2 separate regions of the Homo sapiens genome follow, and region 2 is linked to region 1. The links come from fine-mapping of genetic effects on gene expression. Tissue or cell type: monocytes after Pam3CSK4. Region 1 holds a variant in brackets; the other region holds the start of a gene. All regions are shown on one strand. Distances are from middle to middle.

Evidence for each region. PIP is the estimated chance that this variant, and not a neighbour inherited with it, causes the effect.
Region 2: it holds the start of MYDGF, and the variant in region 1 is the best candidate, but not a certain one, in a credible set for the expression of MYDGF in monocytes after Pam3CSK4 (Quach 2016, PIP 0.85).

The regions. Positions count from the first base shown.
Region 1 is chr19:5,487,652-5,495,753 of GRCh38, reverse strand. No RefSeq gene overlaps it. Among named protein-coding and RNA genes, the nearest start is that of ZNRF4, 36 kb to the right of the region's middle. The variant A/G (reference allele first, on the strand shown) is at 5,005.
Region 2 is chr19:4,666,144-4,674,245 of GRCh38, reverse strand. It overlaps MYDGF (myeloid derived growth factor), which reads left to right and starts at 3,904. Exons shown (of 6, transcript NM_019107.4): 1 at 3,904-4,085; 2 at 5,601-5,651. The coding sequence starts at 3,912. RefSeq lists a silencer at 3,515-3,904.

The DNA of each region.
Region 1 (8,102 bases):
TGAGTAGCTGGGATTACAGGTGTGTGCCAGCACACCCTACTAATTTTTATATTTTCAGTAGAGATGGGGTTTCGCCATGTTGGCCAGGCTAGTCTCAAACTCCTGACCTCAAGTGATCCGCCTGCCTCCACCTCCCAAAGTGCTGGGATTACAGGTGTGAGCCACCGTGCCCAGCTAATTTTTGTATTTTTGTATTTATTTATTTTTGAGGCAGAGTCTTGCTCTGTCACCCAGGCTGGAGTGCAGTGGCGCGATCTCAGCTCACTGCAACCTCTGCCTCCCAGGTTCAAGAGATTCTCCTGCCTCAACCTCTCGAGTAGCTGGGACTACAGGCGCCCGCCACCACGCCTGGCTAATTTTTGTATTTTTGGTAGAGACAGCATTTCACTATGTTGGCCAGGCTGTTCTCAAACTCCTAACCTTGTGATCCGCCCGTCTCGGCCCCCCAAAGTGCTGGAATTATAGGCGTGAGCCCTGCTCCCGGCCCCAGACACCGTTTCCTTGGAGTGCCCCTCTCTGGCTCGAACCCGGGACCAGGGCCCTGCCAACAACAGGATTTTCTCTAATCGTGTCCTTTTTCATCAACAAAACCCTAATGGAAAACGCCTCCCTCTAATTCCTCAGGGAAGCAGTCATTTTTGTTTTTCTCTCATTACATAGATTGCAACAATTGAGGCACCTCCCATGTATGGTGCTGTGATTAATTCCACCTCCCGTGTTGGGGCTTCCGTGCCCCCCACGTCCCCCGTCCCCCATTGTGAGTGGATCCTGGGCAGCGGGGGTGGGAAGAACGCAATCAAGCTCAGGCGGTGGCGTTTCATTTCCTAACAATAGCAAGATTCCCCACCCAGGGACACAGGCACGTGTATCATCAAAGAAAATAAAAGCCTAGGGGTGGGATTGCAGGATCCTTTGGGGGCAAGTTTTGCACGAAATCTCTGAGACTTTGATTTCTGCCATCTCTTTATGCACCAAACCTTGGGCTTTTCATGCATTTTTTTTTTTTTTTAAGTCCGAGTCTTGCTCTTGTCGCCCAGGCTGGAGTGCAATGGCGTGATTTCGGCTTACTGCAACCTCTGCCTCCTGGGTTCAAGTGATTCTCCTGCCTCAGCCTCCCAAGTAGCTGGGATTATAGACGCCCACCCCCCTACCACGCCCAGCTAAGTTTTGTATTTTTAGTAGAGATGGGGTTTCACCATGTTGGCCAGGCTGGTCTCAAACTCCTGACCTCAGGTGATCTGCCCACCTCGGCCTCCCAAAGTGCTGGGATTACAGGCGTCAGCTGCTGCACCCGGCCTTTTTCTTTTTCTTTTTTTTTCTGAGATGGAGTCTCGCCCTGTTGTCCAGGCTGGAGTGCAGTGGCGCGATCTCGGCTCACTGCAACCTCTGCCTCTGGGGTTCAAGCTGTTCTCCTGCCTCAGCCTCCTGAGTAGCTGGGATTACAGGTGTGTGGCACCACGCCCGGCTAATTTTTTTGTAGTTTTAGTAGAGACGGGGTTGTACTATGTTGGCCAGGCTGGTCTCAAACTCCTGATCTCAAGAGATCAGCCCTCCTCGGCCTCCCAAAGTGCTGGTATTACAGGAGTGAGCTACTGTGCCTGGCCATCATCTATTTTTTTTTTTTTTAAATAGAGACAAGGTCTCACTCTGTTGCCTAGGCTGGAGTGCAGTAGCACGATCATGGCTCACTGCAGTCTTGACCTCCCAGGCTCAAGTGATCCTCCCACCTCAGCCTCCTGAGTAACTGGTACCACAGGCACACACCACAACACCTGCTGATTTTTTTTTTTTTTTTAAAGAAATAGCGTCTTGGCCGGACGTGGTGGCTCACGCCTGTAATCCCAGCACCAGCACTTTGGGAGTCCGAGGCAGGCAAATCACTTGAGGCCAGGCATTTGAGACCAGCCTGGCCAACATGGCAAAAACCTGTCTCTACTAAAAATACAAAAATTAGCCAGGCGTGGTGGCAGGTGCCTGTAAGCCCAGTTACTCAGGAGGCTGAGGCAGGAGAATCGCTGGAACCCAGGAGACAGAGGTTGCAGTGAGCCGAGATCACACCACTGCACTTCAGCCTGGGTGACAGAGGGAGACTCCATCTCAAAAAAGAAAAAGAAAAACAAGATTATTAGTATACAGAAAAGGCCGAGGACTCAGACAGAAGAGGGTCCCTCAGTCACCTGGGAATCCCTGTGGGATGACATTGGGTTGACGGCTTTTGAGCTCCATCTGGACCCTCTGACCAGCCTCTAGCCCTCTCCCCTCCTCCCTCGTCCTGGGAAGGGGCCCTAAACCAGGAGTTTGCTTCGGCAGCATTGGGTAAACTTGTGCAAACACCTTTCACTCTCTGAGCACCCCTGAATCCTCCATCCCTCCAAAGTGGGGACATAAAGGGCCGCTTCTTAGTGACAAGGCACAGAGACAGCAGGCATGTCCCTCAAGGTCACACAGCAAATCGGGGAGAGAGAGGGGAATGGGCCCCGTTGGTCTCTGCCTTCCTTCCCAAACTCTTCAGCTCGGGATGGTTGACAGCTGTCTCCCCTGGCCTGGACTTACCAGTGTCTGGCAGTCAAACTGTCAGGAAGACAGGCCAGATGAATTTGTTTTTCTGAATATCTCAATGCAGCGCCGGGAGCCAGGTCCACCCGCCCAGTGCCCGACTTCCCCGCCGCAAGCCTCCCCTCGCCCCCCACCAGCCTTTGTCAATATCTCAAAGTGGCAGGCGAAATCCCCTTCAATGGAAACCTCGGCGAATCTTTTCTTTTACCCTCAGTATTTGTTTATTTTCCTCCCTCCCTTCTCCTTCCTCCCGCATCTCAGAGAGGAAGCGATTAGATTAACGGGCAGAGGAGGACAAGAAAAGACGAACAAAGACGCCCGCCTTTTGGGCCCAGCCGCTCAGAATGGGGGATTTGCAGGCGAAGAATGTGGACGGGGGTGAAAGTGGAACGTGGAATTGAGTGGGTTGAATGGAGCGGCCGAGCAGAGGATTTTACCAGCTCAAGGGACAAAGGCGCCGGCCGCAGGGCCTCCTTGGCGAAGCCAAGCTGCCAACACCTGCTCCTTTTTCAGGAACCACAATAGGGACTTTAAACATCAGCTGCGGCCTCCAGGATCCTGACAGCGCCTGGCCCGTGGGGCTCAGCAGTCCAGGGGGTTGCAGGGACATAAAGGGCAGCAGAAGTCCCCCCCTCCGAGCCCAGGGCTGCGAGTGGGGGGCTCTGGCATCCACCAGCTTGGGTCTGAATCCCAGCTCTGCTATTCATTCATTCATTCATTCATTCATTCATTCATTCAGTGTTTCCTGAGCACCTGCTATGTGCCAGGCCTGATTCTAGGACCCCAAGGACCCAGCAGTGAATTAGCCAGAAACAAAATTCCTTGCCCCCGTGTGGCTGACCTTCAAACACACCGTGCGACCTTGGGGCTGTGGCTTTGCTGCTGTGGGCCTCGGTTTTCCACATCTGGAAATGGAATGATGTTCATGCACACCTCACGGGAAGTTAGGGTGGTCAAGCAGCCCCCAGAAAAGCCTGGGCCAGAGTGGGTGTCCCTAAGTGTTAGCTGACATTAGATGCTCTCCCCTTCGGCCTTTTTTCTTTTTGAGATGGAGGCTCACTCTGTGGCCCAGGCTGGAGTACAGTGGCATGATCTCAGCTCACTGCAACCTCCGCCTCCTGGGTTCAAGCGATTCTCCTGCCTCAGCCTCCCGAGTAGCTGGGACCACAGGCATGCACCACCACACCCAGCTAATTTTTTGTACTTTTTTCCTTTTGTAGAGATGTGGTTTCACCATGTTGCCTAGGCTGGTCGCAAACTCCTGGGCTCAAGCCATCCTCCCACCTCAGCCACCCAAAGTGTTGGGATTACAGGCGTGAGCCACCGCGCCCGGATGGCATGGCTGATATCTGGGGCTGTGTTACTCTCTGAGGTGGGGAGTGTCCTGTGCGTTTTAGGTTGTGCCACAGCATCGCTGGCCTCCACCCATTGGATACCAGCAGCACACCCCCGCTACGGAGAGGTGACAAGCACAAATACCCCCAGACATGGTCAAGTGTCCCTTGGGGGGCAGAATCACCCACAAGGAGAACCGCTGTGTTACATCACTCCCCGGCCCAAGGTTAGACTACAGGACAGACTTCCCACTGCAGCCCTCCCCCGCATCTTCTGCTGGAATCCTTTCCCTTGGCCTCCAGGGCCTTCTCTGTCGTCCAACTCCATGCCCAGCCACTGGCCCCTGAAAAACAGGGAGCCCAGCCCTGGAGCCCACCCCCATCCTCTCCCCGGCATTGGATTATCTGTTCCTGGGGTCGGACAGAATGCCTGCATCTATGTGATGTGGACATATTGGTGTCTTTGGGGGTTGGGGTGGGGAAGGGGTCAGGCTAAGGGGCTGTCCTGTCCCTTCCTCTGCTGGGGAAATCATGAGCTGAAGGCTGAGTCTCTGAGGGAGGCCTCTGTCCCTCCCCCTGGCTGGGGTGCAGGTCAGGACCTAGACTGGCAGAAGGGGGTGCTTCAGGGCAGAGAGATGGGCCATTTGAGGTCCCGATACCTTGAGATCCAGGGTGTTCCTAGTACCTCCCACCCCAATGCATGCATGCATTCATTCCTTCATTCATCAGTATTTTTATTTTTATTTATTTATTTTTTTTACTGGAGTCTCTGTTGCCCAGGCTGGAGTGCAGTGGCGCGATCTCAGCTCAGTGCAACCTCCGCCTCCTGGGCTCAAGTGATTCTCCTGTCTCAGCCTCCCGAGTAGCTGGGATTACAGGTGCATGCCACCAAGCCTGGCTAATTTTTGTGTTTTTAGTAGAGATGGGGTTTCGCTATATTGGCCAGGCTGGTCTTGAACTCCTGACCTCAAGTGATCTGCCCGCCTCGGCCTCCCAAAGTGCTGGGATTACAGGCGTGAGCCACCATGCCCGGACCCACATTCATCAATATTTACCTCCCTTTCCTGGTGCCCGAACCTGTGCTGGGCTCTGGAGAACCATCAGTGAGCACCAC[A/G]GACCTGACCCCATCCACACATGGCTCACAGTCCAGGCAGGAGGCGGACCCAGGAAAGGGTGGTTCCGACCTGGGTGATTAGAGAAAAGAGGGGGTCTCTGGGCCAGCCTGGAGGTCAGAGGAGGTGACTGAGTCTGGAAGAATAAGAAGTGGTTCATTGGGTGAAGTCAAAGCACAGGGAGGCTGAGCAAACCTTAGAAGGAGCCTTCTTGGGGCTGGGTGCGATGGCTCACACCTGTAATCCCAGCACTTTGGGAGGCTGAGGCAGGAGGCTCACTTGAGCCCAGGAGTTCGAGACCAGCCTGGGCAACATAGTGAAACCCTGTCTATACAAAAAGGTACAAAAATGAGGCATGGTGGCACATGCACCTATGGTCCCAGCTACTCTGGAGGCTGAGGTGTGAGGATCACCTGAGCCCAGGAGGTCGAGGCTGCAGTGAGTCAAGATCTTGCCACTGCACTCCAGCATGGGTGACAGAACGAGACCCTGTCTCAAAAAAAAAAAAAAAAGGAGCTTTCTGGGGAGGACGGATGGGAGGCTAGAGGCCAGGGAGGAGCCAGGAACTGGAATCCGGGCAGGAGGGGGTCCTGGGGACAGGTGGGATAGGATCTGGGGAGGGGATGAGGGCGAGAAGAGACCAGGTCGACATCTGACTTTCTGGTTCAGGGACCAGGCAGACACGGGGAGTAACCCTGAGAGGTTTGGGAGTGACACTGAGGTCAACCTGCACCCTGCTGGCTCTGATGTCCTGACAGGGGTCCCTCTGGGCTGTGGTGCTGTGGTAAACAGCAGTGGGGGAACCCTGCAGACAGTTCGTCCTGAACACCCCGACAGCCGATTGACGGGTCTTTATTAGCTGGAGAGCTGCGTGGGTTTAAAATAGCATCGTGGCAACAACAAAAGCAATCTGCCTCCTGAATTTTCATTCTGAACGGGTGATCTGCTTTTAATCAAGCAAGGCATCCCAAAATGCTCCTAATTACCCCGAGTCAAGGGCTCGGCAGTCATTTCGATGTCAGCATTCAGGCTGGCGTGATTAGATTTTCACCAAACGAGGGAGCTCGGCCAGAGCTCGATGTCAGGGTGAAGCCAGTCCTGGAATGTCCGGGGTGCCCTGATTTGGAACTGGGGGATGGAGGCTGCAGGGCGGAGACAAACCTCAGGACAGGGGAGTCGATTTCAGACTTGATCGGTGGCTTTGAAAAACCCTCTGTCCCTTTGGGGGCCTCAGTTTCCCCATCTGTACAACGTGATGATGGTGATGATGAAATGAGATAGCAATTGAAAACGTTTTTTAAATTTTTTATGGTTTTTTTTTTTTTTTTTCTGAGACAGAATCTCACTCTGTCGCCCAGGCTGGAGTGCAGTGGCGCAATCTCGGCTCACTGCAAGCTCCGCCTCCCGGGTTCAAGCAATTCTCCTGCCTCAACCTCCCGAGTAGCTGGGATTACAGGCATGCGCCACCATGCCCGGCTAATTTTGTAGTTTTAGTAGAGACGGGGTTTCTCCATGTTGGTCAGGCTGGTCTCGAACTCCCAACCTCAGGTGATCCACCCACCTTGGCCTCCCAAAGTGCTGGGATTACAGGCGTGAGTCACCGTGCCTGACCCAAAGGTGCATCTTATATTTGACGGCATCTCAGAGCCCGTGGAATACAGTGACAAGTAGGTATGTGGCAGGGTGTGTTAGAAGGTGAGAAATGCTATGGAAGGAAAAAAGAAAAGATGATGCTTTCAGGCTGGGCGCAGTGGCTCACGCCTGTAATCCCAACACTTTGGGAGGCGGAGGCAGGCAGATCACCTGAGGTCAGGAGTTTGAGACAAGCCTGGCCAACACGGTGAAACCTCATCTCTGTGAAAATACAAAAATTAGCTGGGTGTGGTGGTGCACACCTGTGATCCCAGCTACTTGGGAGGCTGAGGCAGGAGAATTGCTTGAACCGGGGAAGCAGAGGTTGCAGTGAGCCGAGGTGGCACCACTGCACTCCAGCCTGACGTGCAGGGCAAGACTGTGTCTAAAAAAAAAAAACAACAACAAAAAAAAAAAACAGAAGCTAAGGGGCAGTTCTGGGTGTCTGGGATATAAAATCCCCCCACGATGGCAAGTACACAGCGGCTCGTGCCTATAATCCCAGCACTTTGGGAAGCTGAGTGGAAGGATGACTTCAGGTCAGGAGTTTGAAACCAGCCTGGGCAACGTAAAGGTGTGTCTTTTTTTTTTTTCCCGGCAGAACACATCTCTGCAAAAAATTTAAACATTAGCCAGGTAGGCCGGGCGTGGTGGCTCATGCCTGTAATCCCAGCACTTTGGGAGGCGGAGGCAGGCAGATCACCTGAGGTCAGGAGTTTGAGATAAGCCTGGCCAACACGGTGAAACCTCATCTCCGTGAAAATACAAAAATTAGCTGGGTGTGGTGGTGCACACCTGTGATCCCAGCTACTCGGGAGGCTGAAGCTGGAGAATGGTGTGAACCCGGGAGGCAGAACTTGCAGTGAGCCGAGATTGCGCCACTGCACTCCAGCCTGGGCGACAGAGCAAGACTCCATCTCAAAAATAAATAAATACATAAATAAATATAATCCCAGCACTTTGGGAGGCTGAGGTGGGCGGATCACGAGGTCAGGAGATCGAGACCATCCTGGCTAACACGGTGAAACCCTGTCTCTATTAAAAATATAAAATACAAAAAATTAGCTGGTGTGGTGGCGGGCGCCTGTAGTCCCAGCTACTTGGGAGGCTGAGGCAGGAGAATGGCGTGAACCCAGGAGGTGGAGCTTGCAGTGAGTCGAGATTGCGCCACTGCACTCCAGCCTGGGCGACAGAGTGAGACTCTGTCTAAAAAAAAAAAAAAAAAAAAAAAAAAGAAAATTAGCCAGGTATGGTGGTGCACATCTGCAGTCCCAGCGACCCAGGAAGCTGAGGCAGGAGGATCACTTGAGATTGGGAGTTCGAGGCTTCAGTGAGCTATGATCGTGCCGTTGTACTACTCCAGCCTGGGTGACAGAGCAAGACCTTGTCTCTTAAAAAAAAAAAAAAGAGAGAGAGAAATCTTCCCCCATGTAATAATGGTGAGATCATAGAAGGAACTGGAAGCATG
Region 2 (8,102 bases), 820 kb after region 1:
CCAAGGCGAGAGGTTGGCTTGAGCCCAGGCATTTGAGATCAGCCTCAAAAAAAAAAAGGCCATGTGTGGTGGCTCACGCCTGTAATCGCAATACTTTGGGAGGCTGAGGCCAGCAGATCACTTGAACCCAGGAGTTTGAGACCAGCCTGGGCGATATGGTGAAACCCCATCTCGACTAAAAATTGAAGAATTAGCCCAGCGCAATGGTGCACGCCTGTAGTCCCAGCTACTCAGGAGGCTGCAGTGGGAGGATCACTTGAGCCCTGGAGGAGGAGGAGGTTGCAGTGAGCTGAGGAGGTTTCTCCAGCCTGGGCAACAGAGTGAGACCCTGTCTCACACAGACACACACACACACAAAAAGGAGGCCAGGCACAGTGGCTCACACCTATAATGCCAGCACTTTGGGAGGCCAAGGTGGGTGAATCATTTGAGCACAGGAGTTTGAGACTAGCCACAGCAACATGGCATAAACCCCATCACTACAAAAAAATAATAATAATAATAGCTGGGTGAGTGTTGCATGCCTTGTAATCCCAGCTACTTGGGAGGCTGAGTGGGAGGATCATTTGAGCCCAGGAGGTTAAGGCTGTAGGGAGCTGAAACTACCACTGCATTTCAGCCTGGGCGACAGAGCAAGACCTTGTCTCAAATTTAAAAAAAAAAATAAATAAATAATCTAATATTTGTGTGATCGAATCTTGTCCTTTAGGACTGACAGATTTCATATCATGATTAGTGGGATCCGTGGAATAATTTGTTGTTTGCTCCTCTGTCACCCAGGCAGGAATGCAGTGGTATAATCACAGCTTACTGCAACCTCGACCTCCTGGGCTCAAGTGATCCTCCCACCTTGGCCTCCCAAAGTGTTGAGATTACAAGAGCCACTGTGTCCAGCCTTGTTTTCTTTTCTTTTTCTTTCTTTCCTTTTTTTTTTTTTTTTTTTGGACACAGGGTTTCGCTCTGTCACCCAGGCTGGAGTGCAGTGGTGTAATCTCAGCTCACTGCAACCTCTGCTTCCATGGCTCAAGTCATCCTCTGGCCTCAGCCTCCCAAGTAAGTGGGACTACAGGCACAAGCCATCATGCCCAGCTAATGTTTTTGTATTTTTTATAGGGACGGTGTCTTGCCATCTTGCCCAGGCAGTTTTTAAACTCCTGAGCTCAAAGTGATCTGCCTCCCAAAGTACTGGGGCCAGCCTTGTTTTTTCTTTTAATCCTTTTAGTGTGATGATTTGTGGTGGGTGGGTGAAACTTGGGGCCGAAACCTTTCTGGAAAGAACACACACACGCATGCACACGCATACGCACAACCTGCCTGGGTTCCGTAGCAGACTCCCAACAGCTCACAACTGAAATTCCTTGTTAGCCGCAGAGCTCGGCCATGCATCGAATCCTTCATGGTGACAGGCTGAAAGTTGAACACCGTGGTAAGGTAATGGGGACTCCATCAGTGGAACCGTGCTGTGTCACTCACCTAAGGAACAGGGCTGCTCTGTGCTTGTCCAGTTTATGGAGACAGTGTCTCATGGGTCCAGAACAGACAGCTGCATGGAGGAAGAGATTTGTTTGTTTATTTCTTTATTTATTAAGACGGAGTCTTGCTCTGGGACCCAGGCTGGAGTGCAGTGGCATGATCTCAGCTCACCGTAACCTATGCCTCCTGGGTTCAAAAGATTCTCCTGCCCCAGCCTCCCAGGTAGCTGGGATTACAGGCGCCCACCACCATGTCCGGCTATCTTTAAAAAATAATCTTAAAATATCTTTAAATATATATATATATAAGTATATATATGAATATATGAATATATATAAGTATATATGTGAATATATGAATATATATAAGTATATATATGAATATATGAATATATATAAGTATATATATGAATATATGAATATAAGTATATATATGAATATATGAATATAAGTATATATATGAATATATGAATATAAGTATATATATATGAATATATTAATATATATATTCATATATATGAATATATATTCATATATATGAATATATGAATATATATAAGTATATATGAATATATGAATATATATATAAGTATATATGAATATATGAATATATATTCATATATATGAATATATGAATATATATTCATATATATGAATATATAAGTATATATGAATATATGAATATATAAGTATATATGAATATATGAATATATATTCACATATGTGAATATATGAATATATATTCACATATGTGAATATATGAATATATATATTCACATATGTGAATATATGAATATATATATTCACATATGTGAATATATGAATATATATATTCACATATGTGAATATATGAATATATATATTCACATATGTGAATATATGAATATATATATAGGAATGGGGTCTCACTATGTTGCCCAGAATGGTCTAGAACTCCTGAGGTCAAGCAATCCACCCACCTTGGCCTCCCGAAGGGTTGGAATTACAGGCATGAAGTATCACGCCCGGCCAATAAATTTCCTAACGCAAGCAGGTATCCCAATTTAGAACAGGCTGCCACTGCAGAAAGGCAACTGGCTTGGACTTCTGTCATTGGCAGAGGAGTCAGCCTCCACGGGGATCCTTCTCACCTCCCTGGGGCTCACCACCCTCCGTAGCTATGGAGTAGAGTGATTTAATTCCTCAAAGGGTGAATTATAACCCATCTTAGGAGTCATCTATGACGTTTTCTCTCTGGATTCTGTTTTTTGCCAGTTGGGAAGGACTAGAAACACCAGCTTAATTATTGACCCCCCAGGCCTGGCCACTGGTGTTTTCTTGAAATGTTAAGCCATTTGTAACCAAAGAATGACTTCCTTCTCTAGTTGAAAACCTGGGATCTAATGATAGCAATAGCTACAATATATAATTCTCAGTTCATTCGTCCCGGTGTGGGAACTTAATTCCCTCACTTACTCCTCCCAACAACTCCTTGAGGTAGGGATTATTTTCTTTTTAACTTTTTATTTTGAAATAATTTTTGCCTCCCAGAAAATCTGCAGAAACTGTAGGGTTTCCTAATACGCTTCATCCAACTCCCCCTAATGTGAACATCGTCTGTAACCCCTAGGACAAGCCAGGTTATCAAAGCCAGGAAGTGAACACCCACATAATCCTATTAACAAATACACAGACTGATCGAGCGTGATGACTCACACCTGTAATCCCAGCACTTTGGAAGGCCGAGGCAGGCGGATCACTTGGGGTCAGGAGCTCAAGACCAGCCTGGCCAACATGGTGAAAACCTGTCTCTACTAAAAATACAAAAATTAGCCAGGGGTGGTGGTGAACACCTGTAGTCCCAGCTACTCGGGAGGCTGAGGCAGGTGCATCACTTGAACCTGGGAGGCGGAGAGTGCAGTGAGCCGAGATCGCGCCACTGCCCTCCAGCCTGGGCAACAAGAGGGAAACAAAAGCAAGCATCCTGCTTCTCATCCTACTTTCCCTCTGCTAATTTTGAATATCGATGCACACACATCTTGGCTGCAACGATTATGAGAAGTTCGCCTAATGGTGACCTTCGATTTCCCTCACTCCCTGTACATCTCCTAACTGAAAGAGCTGCAGTCAGTCACACGGCTGGTGAGGGACCCTGAGACCCCAAAACGAACTCCATTACCACCTGAGGGACCCTCCAAGGATCGCCGGGCTACGCAGGGTCCCTAGGGTACGAGGCCGCCCCCTCGGCGGCCCCGCCCCCTCGGCGGCCCCGCCCCCTCGGCAAAAGTCCCGCCCCCTCGACAAAGTCCCGCCCCCAAGATGGTGGCCCCGGGCGGTGGACAGGGCGGGGCGTGCCGGGTCACGTGGACAGCCGACGCCGACGTGGCCTCCGGCGGACGCTCCACGTGTCCCTCGCCGCGCCCCGTCTACCCGCCCCTGCCCTGAGGACCCTAGTCCAACATGGCGGCGCCCAGCGGAGGGTGGAACGGCGTCGGCGCGAGCTTGTGGGCCGCGCTGCTCCTAGGGGCCGTGGCGCTGAGGCCGGCGGAGGCGGTGTCCGAGCCCACGACGGTGGCGTTTGACGTGCGGCCCGGCGGCGTCGTGCATTCCTTCTCCCATAACGTGGGCCCGGGGGTACGTGCCACCGCCGTCCCGGATATTTGAGTGCTGGCAGGCCCGGGGAGGGGGCGCGGAGCATTGGGGGCGGGGCCCGAGGAGGGGGCGCGGACCGCGGAGGTGGGTACTGAAGAAGGGGTGCGGATTGTTAGGGTCGGAGGCTGAGTGGGGGGCGCGGGACCGTGAGGCCGGGGTCATCACTGGGGCAGGACTGAACTCATAGGGAGCGGGGCCTTGTGGGCCCCGGCGGCGTTGAGGGGGCGTGATCACCTGTCACCTGTCGCCTGCCTGGAGTGTCCAGGCACCCCTGCCCTCCAGACGCAGAGGTGGGGAGGGGTCAGTGATGGGAGCGGCAGGAGGCTAAAGGGCATCTGCCCTCCTGGGCCTGAAGGAAATCAGTCGCTGCAGCTCCGAAGAGGGAGGAAGTGCTCCTTCCTTCCATTGCACAAGGTCCCCCCTCACCGAGGGTGTGAGGCCGGGCCCTCAGCCCTGTACTCAGCTTGTCGGCAAAGTCCTTTCCCCTCTCAGCCTCCCTTTCCCCGCCTGTAATAACAGTATCTTTACTGTTTTTTGACTATTTCTTTTTAGACTTGCGTGCAGTGGCGGGATCTCGGCTCACTGCATCCTTAGCCTTCTGGGTTCAAGCAATTCTTCTGCCTCAGCCTCCCCAGTACCTGGGATTACAGACGTGTGCCACCACACCCGGATAATTGTTGTTGTTGTTGTTTGAGATGGAGCCTCACTCTGTCGCCCAGGCTGGAGTGCAGTGGCGCGATCTTGGCTCACTGCAACCTCTGCCTCCCAGGTTCATGCCATTCTCCTGCCGCAGCCTCCCAAGTAGCTGGGACTACTAATCTTTGTATTTTTAGTACAGATGGGATTTCACCATGTTAGCCAGGCTGGTCTTGAACTCCTGACCGCAGGTGACCCGCCCACCTCGGCCTCCCAAAGTGATGGGATTACAGGCGTGAGCCACTGTGCCAGGCCAGTTTGTTGACTACTTCCTTATAGTTAGGTGTGATGCCAAGTCCTTTATATGTTAGGCCCAAGTTACAGATGAGAAAATGCTTCACATAAAAAAGAGAAACAGAGAGAAACTAGAGGCTCAGAAAAGTTTTCACTTGTCCAGGTCCCATGGCAAAACCCATCTCTACAAAAATACGAAAAATTAGCCAGGTGTGGTAGCAGGTGCCTGTAATCCCAAGTACTCAGGAGGCTGAGGCAGGAGAATCGTTTGAACCCGGGAGGCAGAAGTTGCAGTGAGCTGAGATCATCCCACTTCAGCCTGGGCGACAGAACAAGACTCTGCTTCAAAAAAAAAAAAAAAAATTAGTCGGGTGTGGTGGTTGCGTACCTATTGTCTCAGTTACTTGAGAGGCTGAGGCAAGAGGATTACTCAAACCTGGGAGTTCGAGGCTGCAGTGAGCTGTCATTGTGCCCCTGCACTCCAGCTTGGGTGACAGCAAGACCCCGTCTCTTAAACAAAATAAAAATTTCCTTCTACCAAACCTTTTTTTTCCTTCCATTCTCTAGGACAAATATACGTGTATGTTCACTTACGCCTCTCAAGGAGGGACCAATGAGGTGAGTTGTTCAAAATTCCCTCTAGCTTACTGTGACAGTATCCATTGTTGTAGGGAGATGTTCTGTAGCAGACAGCAGGGTTGGGTCTCACCTATATCACCTTACACTCATTGAATGACTCTTCCTAAACCAATAAAAAGGGAGAGTATTGGCATTAAACAGTGACGACAGATTCTGCTGTTATTATTCTACAGAGCAAGCAAATGTCTGGACAGAAGGAGGGAGGGGAGATGGGAGTCTGCCATCCCCATGAGCATCTGTTGGGATGTTGTATTTTATGTGCAGTGCAACAAGTTATCACAGCTTAGGGGCTTAAAACAGCACCCATTTATTATCTCATAGCTTTGTAGGTCAGAAGTCTGGGTCAGCTCAGTTGTGTGCTTCATAAAACCAAACTCAAGGTATTTTGGGAGGCTGAGGCGGGCAGATCACCTGAGGTCAAAGTTCGAGACCAGCCTGGCCAACATGGCAAAACCTCATCTCTACTAAAAATACAAAAATTAGCTGGGCATGGTGGCACATGCCTGTAGTCCCAGCTACTCAGGAGGCTGAGGCAGGAGAATCACTTGAACCCAGGAGACGGAGGTTGCAGTGAGCCAAGATTGTGCCACTGCACTCCAGCCTGGGCAACAGAGCGAGACTCTGTCTCAAAAAATAAATAATAAATAAATAAAGGTATCACAGGCAAGGCATGGTGGCTCATGCCCCATCTCTACAGAAAATAAAAAAATTAGCCCAGCGTGGTGGCGTGCACCTGTGGTTCCAGCTACTTGGGAGACTGAGGTGGGAGGATCGCTTGAGCCCAGGAGGTCAAGGCTGTAGTGAGCCGTGATTGTGCTACTGGGCAACAGAGCAAGACCCTGTCTCAAAAAAAAAAAAAGTCTCTGGGCTGGGAGAAGAATCCTCTCCTTCAAGCTCTTAGTTGGCAGAATTCAGTTACTTGTGGTTCAGGGACCAAGGTCCCGGTTTCCTTGCTGGCTGTTGTCTCCAGCTGGTGGCAGAAGAGCCAGTAAAGATGATTTGGGCCAGGCACAGTGGCTCATGCCTATAATCCCAGCACTTTGGGAGGCCAAGGCTGGCGAATCACCTGAAGTCAGGAGCTCCAGACCAGCCTGGCCAACATGGTGAAACCCCGTCTCTACTAAAACTACAAAAATTAGCCGGGCGAGCCAGGCGCACTGGCTCATGCCTGTAATCCCAGCACTTTGGGAGGCCGAGGCGGGTGGATCACAAGGTCAGGAGATCGAGACCATCCTGGCTAACACGGTGAAACCCCGTCTCTACTAAAAATACAAAAAATTAGCCGGGTGTTTTGGTGGGCACCTGTAGTCCCAGCTACTGGGGAGGCTGAGGCAGGAGAATGGCGTGAACCCGGGAGGCGGAGCTTGCAGCGAGCCAAGATCGCGCCACTGCACTCCATCCTGGGCGACAGAGCGAGACTCTGTCTCAAAAAAAAAAAAAAAAAAAAAAAAAGGGTGATTTGAAGCACATGGACACATACGCCACTGCTGCCCTTGAGGGAACTGCAGGGCAGGGAATACACGCGGCCTCTAGGAGCTGAGAACAGCCTCTGGCTGGCAGCAAGGAAATGAAGACTTCAGTCCCGCAACCAAGAGGAACTGAAATCTGCCACAACCACAAGAGCTTGGAAGAGGACCTTGAGCTACCAGTAAGAGCCTAGCCCGGTCAACACCTTGAGATGGGTTTCGCCATGTTGGCCAGGCTGATCTTGAACTGCTGACCTCAAATGATCAGCCTGCCTCGGCCTCCCAAAGTGCTGGGATTACAGGTGTGAGCCACCGGTGCCCGGCCTCCTAGAGATTTTTCTGTATCCTATGTAAAGCGCTTCAGTTGCATGGACGTGTGGAGTTGACAATCCCGTACTAATGGATTGAGGGTTACTTCCAACCCAGTCCGTGAATAACCTTGGCCAGGGTTCATTGTACAAGTGCAGTTACATCTGTGGGAAAACCACCCAGAAGTGGGATTCATGGGTCCATTTTCTTAAAAGTAAAACTGGGCTGGGCGCGGTGGCTCACGCCTGTAATCCCAGCACTTTGAGAGGCCAAGGCAGGTGGATCGCCTGAGGTTGGGAGTTTGAGACCAGCCTTGCTAAGATGGTGAAACCCCATCTCTACTGAAAATACAAAAGTTAGCAGGGCGTGGTGGCACGCGCCTGTAATCCCAGCTACTCAGGAGGCTGAGGCAGGAGAATCGCTTGAACCCACGAGGCAGAGGTTGCAGTGAGCTGAGATCGCACCACTGCACTCCAGCCTGGGTGACAGAGCGAGACTCCATCTCAAAAAAAAAAAAAAAAGTAAAACTGTATGTTTTGAGATCATGGTAGATTTACATTCACTTGTAAGAAATCCTACAGAGAGATCCAAGTACCGTTTAACCAGGTTCCCCGGTGGTAACATCGTGCAAGAGGCCAGTCATTTTAGAGATGGG